Regions from separate parts of the Homo sapiens genome. Here regions 1 and 2 are each linked to region 3. Evidence: fine-mapped expression QTL. A gene starts in region 3. Each other region holds a variant in brackets. All regions are shown on one strand. Distances are from middle to middle. Region 1 overlaps REEP1 (receptor accessory protein 1). Region 2 holds the start of LOC284950 (a long non-coding RNA gene). Region 3 holds the start of MRPL35 (mitochondrial ribosomal protein L35).

Region 1 (4,225 bases), 31 kb after region 3:
TAAATTGTTAGATAAAATCTCATTCTGTTTTGCACTTTTCTTCACCTGGCATCATGCTTTCAAGTTCCACTGTGTGCACCCTTAATCTGTTGCTTCCAGCAGCTGCAGAGAATTCCACGAGGTGCAGCTCCCACCTCTCTCCAGGTTGTCTTCAACCCCTGCCACCTGTCCAGGGTTTGCAAATTCTCTGGTTTGCTCTCCTCACAACCCTAAGACATAGGCTGAATAGGGACTATTCGGTCTTTTTTACAAAGAAGAAAGCCTGAGGGAATCAGGTCTGTCCTCTGTGCCAAGGCCAAATCTATGGTAGCGACTGCCTGGGTTGTTCTGAGAGAAGTTCTGAGGCTGAATTGAGGCTCAGGAGGAAGGAGCATGCCTTGCTGTGCTGCATTTGCTGTGTCTGCACAGGCCCGGCATCACCCAGCCAGGATGAAGTCTAGCCTCTTCCCCTTTTCTGGGGCCCTTTCTGCTACCTGATCTGGCCTGGCATCTGAGGCCCACACTGGGGGCTGAGCTGGGGAGAGTACACCAGCCCGGTATAAATTGGCTTCCTCTGCCAGACTTCCTCCTAGGCATGTTGACCTTACTTCAGGGTATGATAGCCCAAGAGCCTCTGACCCAGGAAATTCTGCCCCATATCCACGCCCCAGGCCATCTTTCACCTGTCTTCCTTTTTTTTTTTTTTTTTTTTTTTTTTTAAAGATGGAGTTTCACTCTTGTTGCCCAGACTGGAGTGCAATGGTGCAATCTCATCTCACTGCAACCTCCGCCTCCCCGATTCAAGCGATTCTCCTGCCTCAGCTACTCCATGAGTAGCTGGGATTACAGGCATGCACCACCACGCCTGGCTAATTTTGTGTTTTTAGTAGAGACGGGGTTTCTCCATGTTGGTCAGGCTGGTCTTGAACTCCCGACCTCTGGTGATCCACCCTCCTCAGCCTCCCAAAGTGCTGGGATTACAGGCGTGAACCACTACACCCAGCTCCTGTCTTCCTTTTTGAGATGGCTTTTATTTTAGGCTCCAGAACAGCTGGAAAGAGCACTACACTGTCCTTGGCCTCCCTGCTGGGTTGCACCTTTCCTCTTTGCCCCCTGTGGTCATAGGTGCGGAGGCCAAGGGGGCCAGCAGTGAGGAGGGCTGGGGCATAATGCAGCACAGCTGGTCCTCTCAGCCTGGGACAGCCAGAACACTCCCCACTGCCTCCCTGGGGCATGGCAGGGGACGTCATCACCTCTGCTCATGGAGAGTGGCAGAGCCAGTGCCAAAGCAAATCATCCCAAATGCTTTTCTACCTGATGCTGGGCTGGGAAGATACTCCAGGCCCAGAAGACACTGCCATCTCCCTGCAGACCCTGCCAGCTTCTTGCATTCCCAGTTCTGAGGCTGCCCTGAATAATTCACCAGGGGAGGTCTAGGCAGGAGGCCTGGATTCTGGGCCTGGGGGCCTCAGCCCAGTGCACAACCTCTCTGAGCCTGCTTCCTCCACTGGGCTCACCTCTAAAATGGCAACACAGACTCTTAGAGGCAAAGGGACGCCAGGGCCACCTAAGCCCGCTTCCTAGCCAAAGCAGGAATCCCTCCCTCGAACCTGACCATCCAGCTTTGGCTTGTGTCCTTCCAATGTCAGGGACCTCACTACCTCCCAAGATGGCCCATTTTGCTCCTGGACACTTGCAGCATGACAATGCGCCTTCTCAGGAGAGACAAATTACAAAAAGAACAATGATAACAGCTACTATGCACTGGCGCCAGGCATGGCCATAAGCACTTTCACATGGCTGGTTTCATTTGAAGCCTCACAACAACTCTACAAAGGGGTGTCATTCCTTGTGTAGATAAGAAATCTAGGGTGCAGAGATGGTAAA[T/C]AGCTCGCCCGGGTCATGCGGCGAGCAAGTGGCTACCCCCTTCGAACTTCACCCCACTGGTTCTTGCTCTCTGCCCTCTGGGTTTTACTGAATTGAGGCCCCTTTTCCATCTAAGGGGCAGCTTTCATCTGAGGCTTGGTAGATGATGAGCTGATGCAGTGTGGAGATGAGACTTAACTCTGTTTTGTATCCCTATTTCTGGGGCAGTGTCCGGCAGATCAGAAGCTGTAGATGCTTGACAAAGCCTGGATGGTTGATGAGTGAGTGACCATGGGCACTGGCCCCGGAGTCAGAAGGCCACGCTCTACTGCAGCCCAGCATGGGTGACCCTGCACAGTCCCCTTCTCTGGACCTCTGTCTCTTCACCAGTAAAATCACTGGGTTTGACTGAAAGATCCCTGAGGTCATTTCCTGTCTGGCCTTTTGGGATTCCATTCCTGGGGGGGGGTCCCTCGGGGGGTAACCCCTCCCTGAGGTGGCCATCACCCCCACAGCCGAGCCTCCACCTCCCCAACCCTGCCCTGCTTCCAGCAGTGACAGGGTTAAAACATCTCCCAACAGAAAAGCCACAGTCTTAAGACCTGCGAAGGGCCAAGGGGACACTGCTGAGAGGGAGGAAATGGACGGAGCCCTGAGCTGCACTTGGCTCTGAGCATGAGTTGCCATTCCCAGGCAGCCGCAGGCCTCATGCCTTCCTGTTGATGGCTAAGACCCCCGGGCATCAGATGGGGTCTGTCAGGACATGGGGCTTATGGCCAAGGTGTCCCCTGCAGGCTGCATAGTCACAGGTGGCCAGACATCTCTGTTTATAGATTTAAGGGCCACGCAGTCACCAGACAGACATTGTGGACATAGATTCCCACCCTTCTCACCACAGCGAGGCAGAAGTGGTGATCCAGAACCGTCCCCCACCCCCCCACCATCAGTCCTGGGCAGCTGCTGTGCTCAGCCCCTGAGACCCAAGGCCCCTGGCATCCTCCCAAGGAGCAGCCTGGGAAACTGTGTGCCCCCACCCTCCATGAGCCTGAAACCCGTGCTGGTGGATCCGATGTCGGGGGGTCCCAAACACGGCTGCATCTCAATGAAAATCACACTTCTGGGTCTCACCCCAGACCTACTGAAGCCTCTGCGGATGGGCCCAGGACTTTGCATGTTTAACGAGGTCCCCAGGTCAGTCCCAATACCAGCAATCCCACGATGGGCGTGTGACACCAGAGTCAGACATTGGAGGCAGAGGTGTGGTTACTGTAAGGTCCTGGTCACCACAGGAACAAGAACTCAGAGCTAGCATGGCCCTTGGTATGCAGAGGCTGGGGGTGGTGTGAGGTACATGAGAGGTCAGAGATGAGAAGGAGACAGCAGAGTGAGAGAGAGGACAGGCAATATTCAGGCAGGGAAGAGGGCCCGTGAGAGCAGTAAGCCCCGGGTGAGAAGACAACACTTAGGTATCAACAGGTATGCCTCCCCGGAGTCTGAGAAGACAACACAGAAGGCTCCCGGGGCCCAGGTCCAGTTGTGCCTGCTGCCTCCAGGCTTTGCCTAGACACTAGCCCCCAACTACCCCCAATTCCCCAGACAATCATATGGAGGAAAGGGGACCCTTTGGTGCAGGTGACCTAGCCCTGTCCCTGATCAGTCACCAGGCTGGTTTCCTGGCCGGGCCTGAGGGGTGCTCCGCCCCTTGGCTGACCTGGCATGATCTGATGGACACCCCGTTGGTGGCAGGTCCGTGGGGCCAGGGCCAGGCTGCATGCCACACTGCGGACTGGGCCTCTCTCAATGAAAGCGAGGCCCAAGGAGTGGGAAAGAGGGGAAGTAAAGTGACACCTACCTGAGCTGCTAGCGCTCTCAGAAGCACTCCTGGACATCTTAGGCTGGCCGTGTTTGCCGCTGGCCCGCCCAGACCCCGGTGGTGGGGGGCCCGAGGGAGCAGGGGCGCCGTCTCCCCTGATGGTGGTGAGGTCCTGCATGCTGAAGCTCCGCAGTCTCTCCGATAAGGCACCCTGTCCCTGGATACAACACAGGAGGGGCACACGTCAGAGGTCCTGCTCCACAGGTCACACTCGACAAAGGCCAAGAGGGAGCTCTGATGGTCAGCCAGGTGGAAATCAAGACCTGGATCAACTCTGAGGCGCAGGTGCCCAGACATAGCTGCTGGAAACACAGAGAGGGTCAAATCCCGGAATTTTCCAGGGCCTCCTCTGGGGCTCAGTAATTGCTCCTTTGGCTCCAGGATCCCTCCCTACCCTCAGACACCACTATGATGATACGATGATACGATGATGATCCGGAGCCTCAGACAGACCCAGGGCCAAGGGCGTGACTACTGCCTGCAGCTCCTACTCCTTCCAGGCCACCT
Region 2 (4,225 bases), 390 kb before region 3:
CAGGGACTGGAAGAGCCTCTCAGCCTCAGAGAAGACATCTGAAGCAGCCTCTGAGCCACACGGAGCACCCCCCGCCCCCACCCCAATGAAGTGGGAGAGGTTCCCAGGCGCAGGGGGAGGAAAGGGGTCATGCAACCACGTCCTTGCCTCCCGCCACGAGTGTACCCCGAGTCACCAGGTTTGCTCAGCCGCAGCAGGGCCAGCCCCGGCGGCTGGAAGGCGGCGGCTGGGCCTGGACGTGGGTGTGGGCGCCCCCGGCCTCCCCCCGCCCCCGCAGGCGCCCCCCACCCCCCTAGCAGGCGCCCCGGTCCCTGTGTGGGCTGCTTTGACTCAGCGCCGGGAGCCGAGCTTAGGCAAACCACGCCGCACTGGACGCCATTCAAGCTTTTACAGGCCCTCAAATTGGGGCTGGAGCCGGAGAGGAAATACTAAAATCCTGTGTACACAACTTCTGTCTGGGCGCGCCGGGGCTCTGGGAAAATCAGGCGCGGCGAGGGACACATTTGGACTGTTTAAGGGCTCCTTTTCCCTGCTCTGCTTTTAGCAGGCATCACGATGTGTCGCCTAAAACCAAGATTCCTGGGTGTGGGCGCAGGAGGGTCTGCGGAGTGTGTGAGCTGAGGCTCGGCGGGAGGAACTAAGCTTTTCTCCTGCCCCCACGTGCCAGGCACACATGCGCCCAAAGTTGGGTTCAGAAATCCCTGTGGTCCATAAACCACACACTCTGCATGGCCCAGGCCCCTTCCCCTGCAGAAAGATGCAGCTGTCGGATGCTGGATCCTCAGAGCCTGGGCTTGGGAGTTAGGCAGGCCTGGGTGGGAACCCGGCTCCCCACTTGGCAGCACTATGACTGTACTGTGGGCAAGGGCCTCTATTTCCTCATCTGTAAAATGGGCGTGATCATGGTAAGTTACCTTGGAGGTTAAAGACATGATGTAGGTGGGGAACTAGCTCAGAGCCTGGCACATAGTAGGTGCTCCCTAAGTGGTAGCTGTTAGTATTTATATGGATTAATAGTGATAGCATCATGTTGAGCCTGGCACATGCTAAGTGCTGCCTACAAATCAATTCATTTAATCCTCACAGCAGCCCCATGGGATAATACTGTAACCCCATTTTAAGGGCAGAAACTAGGTCAATTCATTGACCTACCCAAGGTCACAAAGCTGGTGACTGGCCGGCCAGTCAACTGAACAAATGAACAGTTGAACCCAGGCCATCATTTTCATAGTGCAGATGATTTGCCACACTCTGAACTGTAACAGAGGAGGAGCTGGTGGTGGCCAGAGCTGCTGATGAGCTGTGTGTCCATGGCATCCTCAGCCTGGCACCGAGCCCCCCACACCTGGGCCTCATCCCACTGTCCCAGTTCCAGCTCTGCCAAGTGCCCTCAAGCACTTCCCACCTTGGCCCACCAAGAGCCCGAGCTGCCCCCTCCTACCTCTCGGCCTTGGCTCAGCCTCTCCCCCACCCCCAAGCTCGCTGGCTGCCTGCCTGTGCATCAGGCCACTCACTGGCCACCCCTCCGGTGGGGCTGGCTTCTCCTCTGAGCTGCAACACTTCCACCCCCAACCAGTGCCTTCAGCCTCCCTTCCTTCGACTTGGGCCACGCTGGTCTGTGATATGTTTGTTTCCCTCATTCTGGTCACTCGTCAAAACCCTACAGATCTGAGGCCAGACGTAGTGGCTCATGCCTGTAATCCCAGCACTTTGGGAGGCTGAGGAGGGTGGATCACCTGAGGTCAGGAGTTCGAGACCATCATGGCCAACATGGTGAAACCCCGTCTCTACTAAAAATACAAAAATTAGCCAGGCATGGTGGCATG[C/T]GCCGGTAGTCCCAGCTACTCAGGAGGCTGAAGCATGAGAATTGCTTGAACTGGGAGGCGGAGGTTGCAGTGAGCCGAGGTCATGCCATTGCACTCCAGCCTGGGCAACAGAGCAAGCCTCCATCTCAAAAAACAAAAACAAAAAATCCCCCAAACCCTACAGGTCTGGTCTAGTCTCTTGTGCAGAGCAGGGTCTCCCATTTGTGGAAACGAATTTTCATTGGTGGTAAATATTGGGTGATTGGTGACATTGTCCTCACTGGTGACTTGTATGAAGGAAAAAGAGAAGCCCCAGACAGTTTGTATAAGGAGGCAGGAGACAATGTGGGCATCACCCCGTGTTCCTGACGTCTGCTGCCAAGCACGTGGGGGTGTAACTCCTCTGCCCACCCTTCCCCCTACAACCCCCTTAATTGTTCTGTCATCAGGGCCTCCCAGGAGCCCATGCTGTCTCAGGTAATGGCAGAAACCTCAGGTAACGGCAGGTGTGTGAGCTCCTGGCTGGGCTTCCCTATACCAGCAGCCTGCAAAGGGTTTCCATTCTGGGATCAGAGGGGCTCCAGGCCTGCCCATGAGCCACATGATGCCAACCTCAGTGTGGGCCATGCCAGGCCTGAGACCACATAGTGGATCTCCCAGACCTCTGCTGGGCAGCTAGAGCTGCCATCCCACTTCCCCCAAACAGCCCAAACCCCCAGTGCCCACACCCAAGAGGCACGACAGTGTCATGGAAATAACATGGCCCTTGGAATCCAGAGATCTGGGTGTGGGTCCTGATACTGCAGTTCCATGAGGTCTTGGACAAATCACTTAACATTCCTGTGAGCCTCAGTTCCCCCATGGTGGTAATCATGTATATTTTACTTTGGGATTGAGAGACAGGAGAGGTATGAGAGCACCTGGAACACTGTGGGAGCTGAAGTGTTGGTTTAAGTGGGAGTCACAGTTGTGGTGGGGAGCTAGACTTGAGGGGTGACAGGATGACCCAGTGAGCTGGCCCAGCAGTAAGAAGGGAGGAATTGATGATGGAAAGGCTGGCGTCCCCTGGTCTGGCCTCTGCAGGACTCGTAGTTGAGTCTCCCCACCCCTTAGAGTGGGGGTATTCCTGGCCCCAACCACTTCACACCTTTGACGCTTGGGGGAGGGATGCATATACAGGTGGAGGCTGCTGGGAGTCTGGGGTGCCATGTGGGATACCCCAGACATCTGGCAGAGCTGCAGTGGTGCCCTATGGGTGCAGACTGGTTTGGGACCACACGTGAGCCACCCCAGGGGCTTCCAGAAGGGCGCAGTGCCAAGGCAGCTGAGGATCACGAGTAAGGAGCCTAAGGGGGCCAGAGAACTTGGGGGCGTGTTACTTGTGTCTAAAAATTGGCAGATCGAGGGTCAGGGCATCTGGACTGCTCCAGTGAATAAGGGAGAATGCACACTGGCCACCATCAGCTGCTGGGTACAGCCGGGAGAGCTGGTGGACTTGGAACAGGAACAGTCTGCATGGCGTGACAGCGCCCTCTGCTGTCCAGGCTGGGCTGGCATCGATGGTACAGGAGGAGGGTGATCCTCACACCTGGCATGAGCAGAACCTCCACTTCAAGCAGCCAGGGCTCAGGAGCAGGAGGGACCCCGGTAGATGGGAAACTCATTCCCATTTTACAAATGAGAAGACAGGCTAGGAGGAGTGTAGAAAGTTGCTCAGGGTCCCGTAGCTATTAAATGGCAGAGCCAGACTCATCCTGCAATGCCCTTCCTTCTACCCCAGACTGAATCATTTTATGCAAAATATAACAGGACTCAGGGATGCTGGAAACAGTACCCTTCTTTATTCTATTAAAATCAAATTAGATCTGACTCCGCCTCTGGCTGGGCTGCAGAAAACTTCATTCTGACTTGCTTTTGGAGATGGGAGTGGGTGCTGCTCCTCCCTAGGCCTGTGCAAGAGCCAGGGAGTCTAAGGTGATGCCAGAAAATGGGTGTGAGGGAGTAGTGTTTAAATCTTCAGTGCGTCAGCACCACTGTGAGAGCTTCGTGTCCAAGCCTCAGGGGGTCTGTGCTGCCTCCTTGCCCAGTTTGGCAGCCTGGGCCTGAGGCCATGCCACTCGCTCCCCTGAGGCCCCCTACAGCTTGGCTATGCCATCTGAGGTCTTGCTCCCCCGCCCCCACCTCAGCAGGTACTGCTGCTCCCAGCCATGGAGTTCTCTCAAAACCTTTCTCAAACCTTTTCCTCCCCTCCCCAACCCGCAGCCTAATCCCCTTAAATTGCTCCAGATCCTAGAAAATAAAAGCAGGAAAGGAAAGGTTGGCTGAACAGGGAAGGAAAATATGTCAAGAACAAAAGACAAATGATTATCTCAGGAAAAGTTCCTGCCCCTCTAAACTCTGTGCTGGGCAGCCACACGTGC
Region 3 (4,196 bases):
AGACTGAGGTGGGAGGATCACTTGAGCCCAGGAGTTTGAGACCTGCCTGAGCAAAAGAGTGAGACCTCTCCCAGCACTTTGGGAGGCCGAGGCGGGCGGATCATGAGGTCGGGAGATCGAGACCATCCTGGCTAACACGGTGAAACCCCGTCTCTACTAAAAAAAATAATAATAATACAAAAAATTAGCTGGGTGTGGTGGCAGGCACCTGTAGTCCCAGCTACTTGGGAGGCTGAGGCGGAGAATGGTGTGAACCCGGGAGGCGGAGCTTGCAGAGAGCCAAGATCGCACCACTGCACTCCAGCCTGGGCAACAGAGCGAGAGTCTGTCTCCAAAAAAAAAAAAAAAAAAAAAAAAAAAAAAAAAAGTGAAACCTCATCTCTATAAACAATTTTTTTAAATTAGCAGGGGATGATTGTGCATGCCTGTGGTGCCAGCTACTTGGAAGGCTGTGGTGGGAGGATCCCTTGAGCTCAGGAATTCCAGGCTGCAGTGATTGCACCACTGCACTCAGACCCTGTCTCTAAAAAACAAAATTTAAATCAAGTCACTCACTTGTTCAAAAATGTGCAGTGAGGCCAGGCTCAGTGGCTCACACCTGTAATCCCAGCACTTTGGGAGGCCAAGGTGGGAGACCTGTTTGATTCCATACCAAATAATTGAGACCACCCTGGGCAACATAGTGAGACCTAGGTCTCTACAAAAAATTTAAAAATTAGCCAGGTGTGTGCCTGTAGTCTCAGCTACTCAGGAGGCTTAGGTGGGAGGATTGCTTGAGCCTAGGAGGTCGAGGCTGCAGTGAGCTGTGATCGCACCACTGCACTCAAGCCTTCGCAACAGACCAAGACCTAGTCTCAAAAAAAAAAAAAAGTGCGCAATGACTCCCGTTGCCAATTCAAAGAGCTTTTATGAATGTTTCAATATACTTGTCTAGCGTATGTGCCTGTTTTTGGACTCAAAGTGGCCACCATAGGTGGGAGATCAAGTTGGCAACAATAGTGTTCCAAGGTAATACACCCTATATCTTGCTCTGTACCCCAGGCTGGAGTGCGGTGGCTCAATCTTGGCTTGCTGCAACAACCGCCTCCCAAGTTCAAGCGATTCTCCTGCCTCAGCCTCCCGAATAGCTGGAACTACAGGCGCGCGCCACCACGCCCGGCTAATTTTTTGTACCCCTTAGTAGAGACGGGGTTTCACCCTGTTAGCCAGGATGGTCTCAATCTCCTGACCTCGTGATCTGCCCGCCTCGGCCGCCCAAAGTGCTGGGATTACAGGCGTGAGCCACCGCGCCCGGCAAGAATTTTTTTTTTTTTTTTGAGATGGAGTTTCGCTCTTTCGCCCAGACTGGAGTTCAGTGGCACGATCTCTGCTCACTGCAACCTCCGCCTTCCGGTTTCAAGCGATTCTCCTGCCTCAGCCTCCCAAGCCCGGCTACTTTTTGTATTTTTAGTACAGACGGGGGTTTCATCATGTTGGCCAGGCTGGTCTCGAACTCCTGACCTTGTGATCCGCCCGCCGCGGCCTCCCAAAGTGCTGGGATTACAGGCGTGAGCCACCGTGCCCGGCCCCAAGAATTTTTTTTAATAAGAAATTTTGTAGAACCTTCTATAGGCAGTCGTTTTACAGCGGCGAAGAACGGAACCCGGCAGATGACATTGAATAAATGTTGAGTGGACAACTTTGTTCTTTTCCTCTTCCTTGACTCCGCCTCCTTGCTTTCCCTTCATTCTCTTTTGCTCTTGTGCTTTTAAACCCAAAGCGGCCGCCGTAGGCGAAGGTGAAGATGGCTGCCTCTGCCTTTGCTGGTGCAGTGAGAGCAGCTTCAGGTCAGTGGAGAGCGACATACTCCATGCATGCCTTCACAGAAGGGGAAACTGGTGCGGGATGGAATGGGCGTTTAGACTGGAGGTTAACAAGCAAAAAGGGTCATTATTTAAGTTAAGAAGGTTGCGCCCAATTTTCTCTGGGGCGGTGTGACCGGCAGCCCGTACCAAGTCCCCCGACTCGGACTCACGCGGGCCTGTGTGTCACGCATTTGCCGCTTCCTTACCAGCTTTTTTTCCCTAGAAAAGAAGCCAGAGAAACTGGAACGGAGGGGGCGAGGGAAACCAAAAAGTCTCACCTAACTTTCTGATTTAGAGGCTACGACCTGCCATTCACGACCTTTAACCTTGAGAATTAATGTCTCCTAACTTAAGATTCTACACCTCTAAAATGGGGGTCATAACCACCTACCTGGGGATTAAATGAGATAATGCACGTAAAGCGTTTTGGGCAGTGCCTGACACATGGTAAGCTTGAAGGCTAATTTAATTTTTAACTACAGCCCCCGGCACAAGGGCTGGTATGAGGACTTCTTGACTGAGAGATAGCAGAAGTAAAGGCGACTAAATTAAGTTGCCGTGACGTTAAGTACTTTTTGCAAAAAGTTAAAAATCATCCAAATACCATAGGATGCTCAGTAAGTTACTTTCACACAAAATATATTGTTAGGATAACATTTTGTGGGAGAATATACGAGATCAGTCAAGAAAATGCAGCGATGTAAATTTTACCGTTAGAGAAAAGCTTTTTTTATGTGGAGTATTTTTTGTGTTCGCGAAATATAATACATATGAAGAAAATTTTATATAGTATGCATGAATGATTTAACAGTTCTAAAGCAAACACCTGTTTAACACTCAGGTCAAAACAGTGCACTACCAGAAGCCTCCTCTCCCCTATGTATCAAAATTCTCTACTTCCCCCCCAGATATAAACACTGTTCTCATTTTTATAGTTACTATTAGGTTGCCTATTTTTCCTATAGTAGTTTTAGCATCCATATGTGCATCTCAAGAACATAGTTTTGCCTGGTTTTGAACTTCACATGAATTGGTTCATACAGTATATACGCTTTAGTATCTTCTTTTACATTGTGAGATTCATTCATTCATTTTGCGTAGCTGTAATGCTTTCTCATTGCTATATAATTCTTTTTTTTTTTTTGAGACGGAGTTTCTCTCTTGTTGCCCAGGCTGGAGTGCAATGGCACGATCTGGGCTCACTGCAACCTCCTCCTCCCAGGTTTAAGTGATTCCCTTGGAGTAGCTGGGATTACAGGCATGCGCCACCACGCCCAGCTAATTTTGTATTTTTAGTAGAGTTGGGGTTTCTCCATGTTGGTCAGGCTAGTCTGGAACTCCTGACCTCAGGTGATCCGCCCGCCTCGACCTCCCAAAGTGCTGGGATTACGGGTGTGAGCCACCCTGCCCGGCCTGCTGTATAATATTATATGACTGTGCCACAATTCTCCATTTCCAGTTTGGGGCAATTATGTACAAAGCTGATTGATCTCATCCTGGCGCATGAGTCCAATTGTTTCTGAGGATGTGGGTATGTGTGAAAATCGCTGTGGAATTGCCTGGTCAGAGAATATGTATATATTCAGCATTGCCTGATATTGCCAAACTGTTGAGGCCCCACATCCTCACCAACACCTGATATTGATATTGTCAATAGATATTGTCAGACCTACAAATTTTTGTTAATCTGGTGGCTTTGTAATGGTATCTCATTGAGATTTAAATAAGCATTTCTCTGATTAATAACAAGCTATAGTGTGTTTCACATTTTTATTGGCCTTTTGAATTTCCTTTATGAAATATCCACTTAAATATTTTGCCCATTTTCCTATTGGATTGTTTGTCTTATTTATTTAGAGTATTTTTTGTTTTGTTTTTGTTTTTCATTTGTGTGTGTCCTTTAGCTTCTCCCACTCAGGCTTGTCTTTTTTACATTATTTTGGAGTGCCCTTTGACGAAAAGTTGTTTTTCATCTACTTGAATTTATAGTTCTTGTAATTTTTAAATAGATGATGTAGGTAGTTATCAACTTACTATTAATTTAGATTCTACTGAAAACAATTTAAAGAGTGATGTGACAGCTTATTTTAAAATGTCAGTATTTTAAATATGCTGGAAATTATAGCCTTTTTAACAATTTAAACTATTTGATATTTTAGATATTAAGAATTTGTGAAAGGGTAGTTTTTCAAAATTCTTTTAGGAAACATAGGATCAGAAATCTTGAAGACTCCTGGTTTCGATACTGTCACAGTCTCCTCCACTCCCATCCAGTGCAGTTCATGTCCCCCATTCATTCCTTTGATTCATGCCACATAGGGCCATTGTAATTCCCCAAATGTACATCGTCAC

What was found. PIP is the estimated chance that this variant, and not a neighbour inherited with it, causes the effect. A credible set is the group of variants that fine-mapping cannot tell apart.
Region 1: its variant is the best candidate, but not a certain one, in a credible set for the expression of MRPL35 in whole blood (INTERVAL, PIP 0.73).
Region 2: its variant is the best candidate, but not a certain one, in a credible set for the expression of MRPL35 in skin (TwinsUK, PIP 0.85).

What each region holds. Positions count from the first base shown.
Region 1 is chr2:86,228,928-86,233,152 of GRCh38, forward strand. REEP1 (receptor accessory protein 1) reads right to left here. Exons shown (of 9, transcript NM_001371279.1): 6 at 3,698-3,875. Among named protein-coding and RNA genes, the nearest start is that of MRPL35, 32 kb to the left of the region's middle. RefSeq lists an enhancer at 1,785-2,443. The variant T/C (reference allele first, on the strand shown) is at 1,867.
Region 2 is chr2:85,811,051-85,815,275 of GRCh38, forward strand. LOC284950 (a long non-coding RNA gene) reads left to right here and starts at 4,080. Exons shown (of 3, transcript NR_038888.1): 1 at 4,080-4,225. The variant C/T (reference allele first, on the strand shown) is at 1,827.
Region 3 is chr2:86,197,708-86,201,903 of GRCh38, forward strand. MRPL35 (mitochondrial ribosomal protein L35) reads left to right here and starts at 1,750. Exons shown (of 4, transcript NM_016622.4): 1 at 1,750-1,826. The coding sequence starts at 1,784. RefSeq lists an enhancer at 1,569-1,838.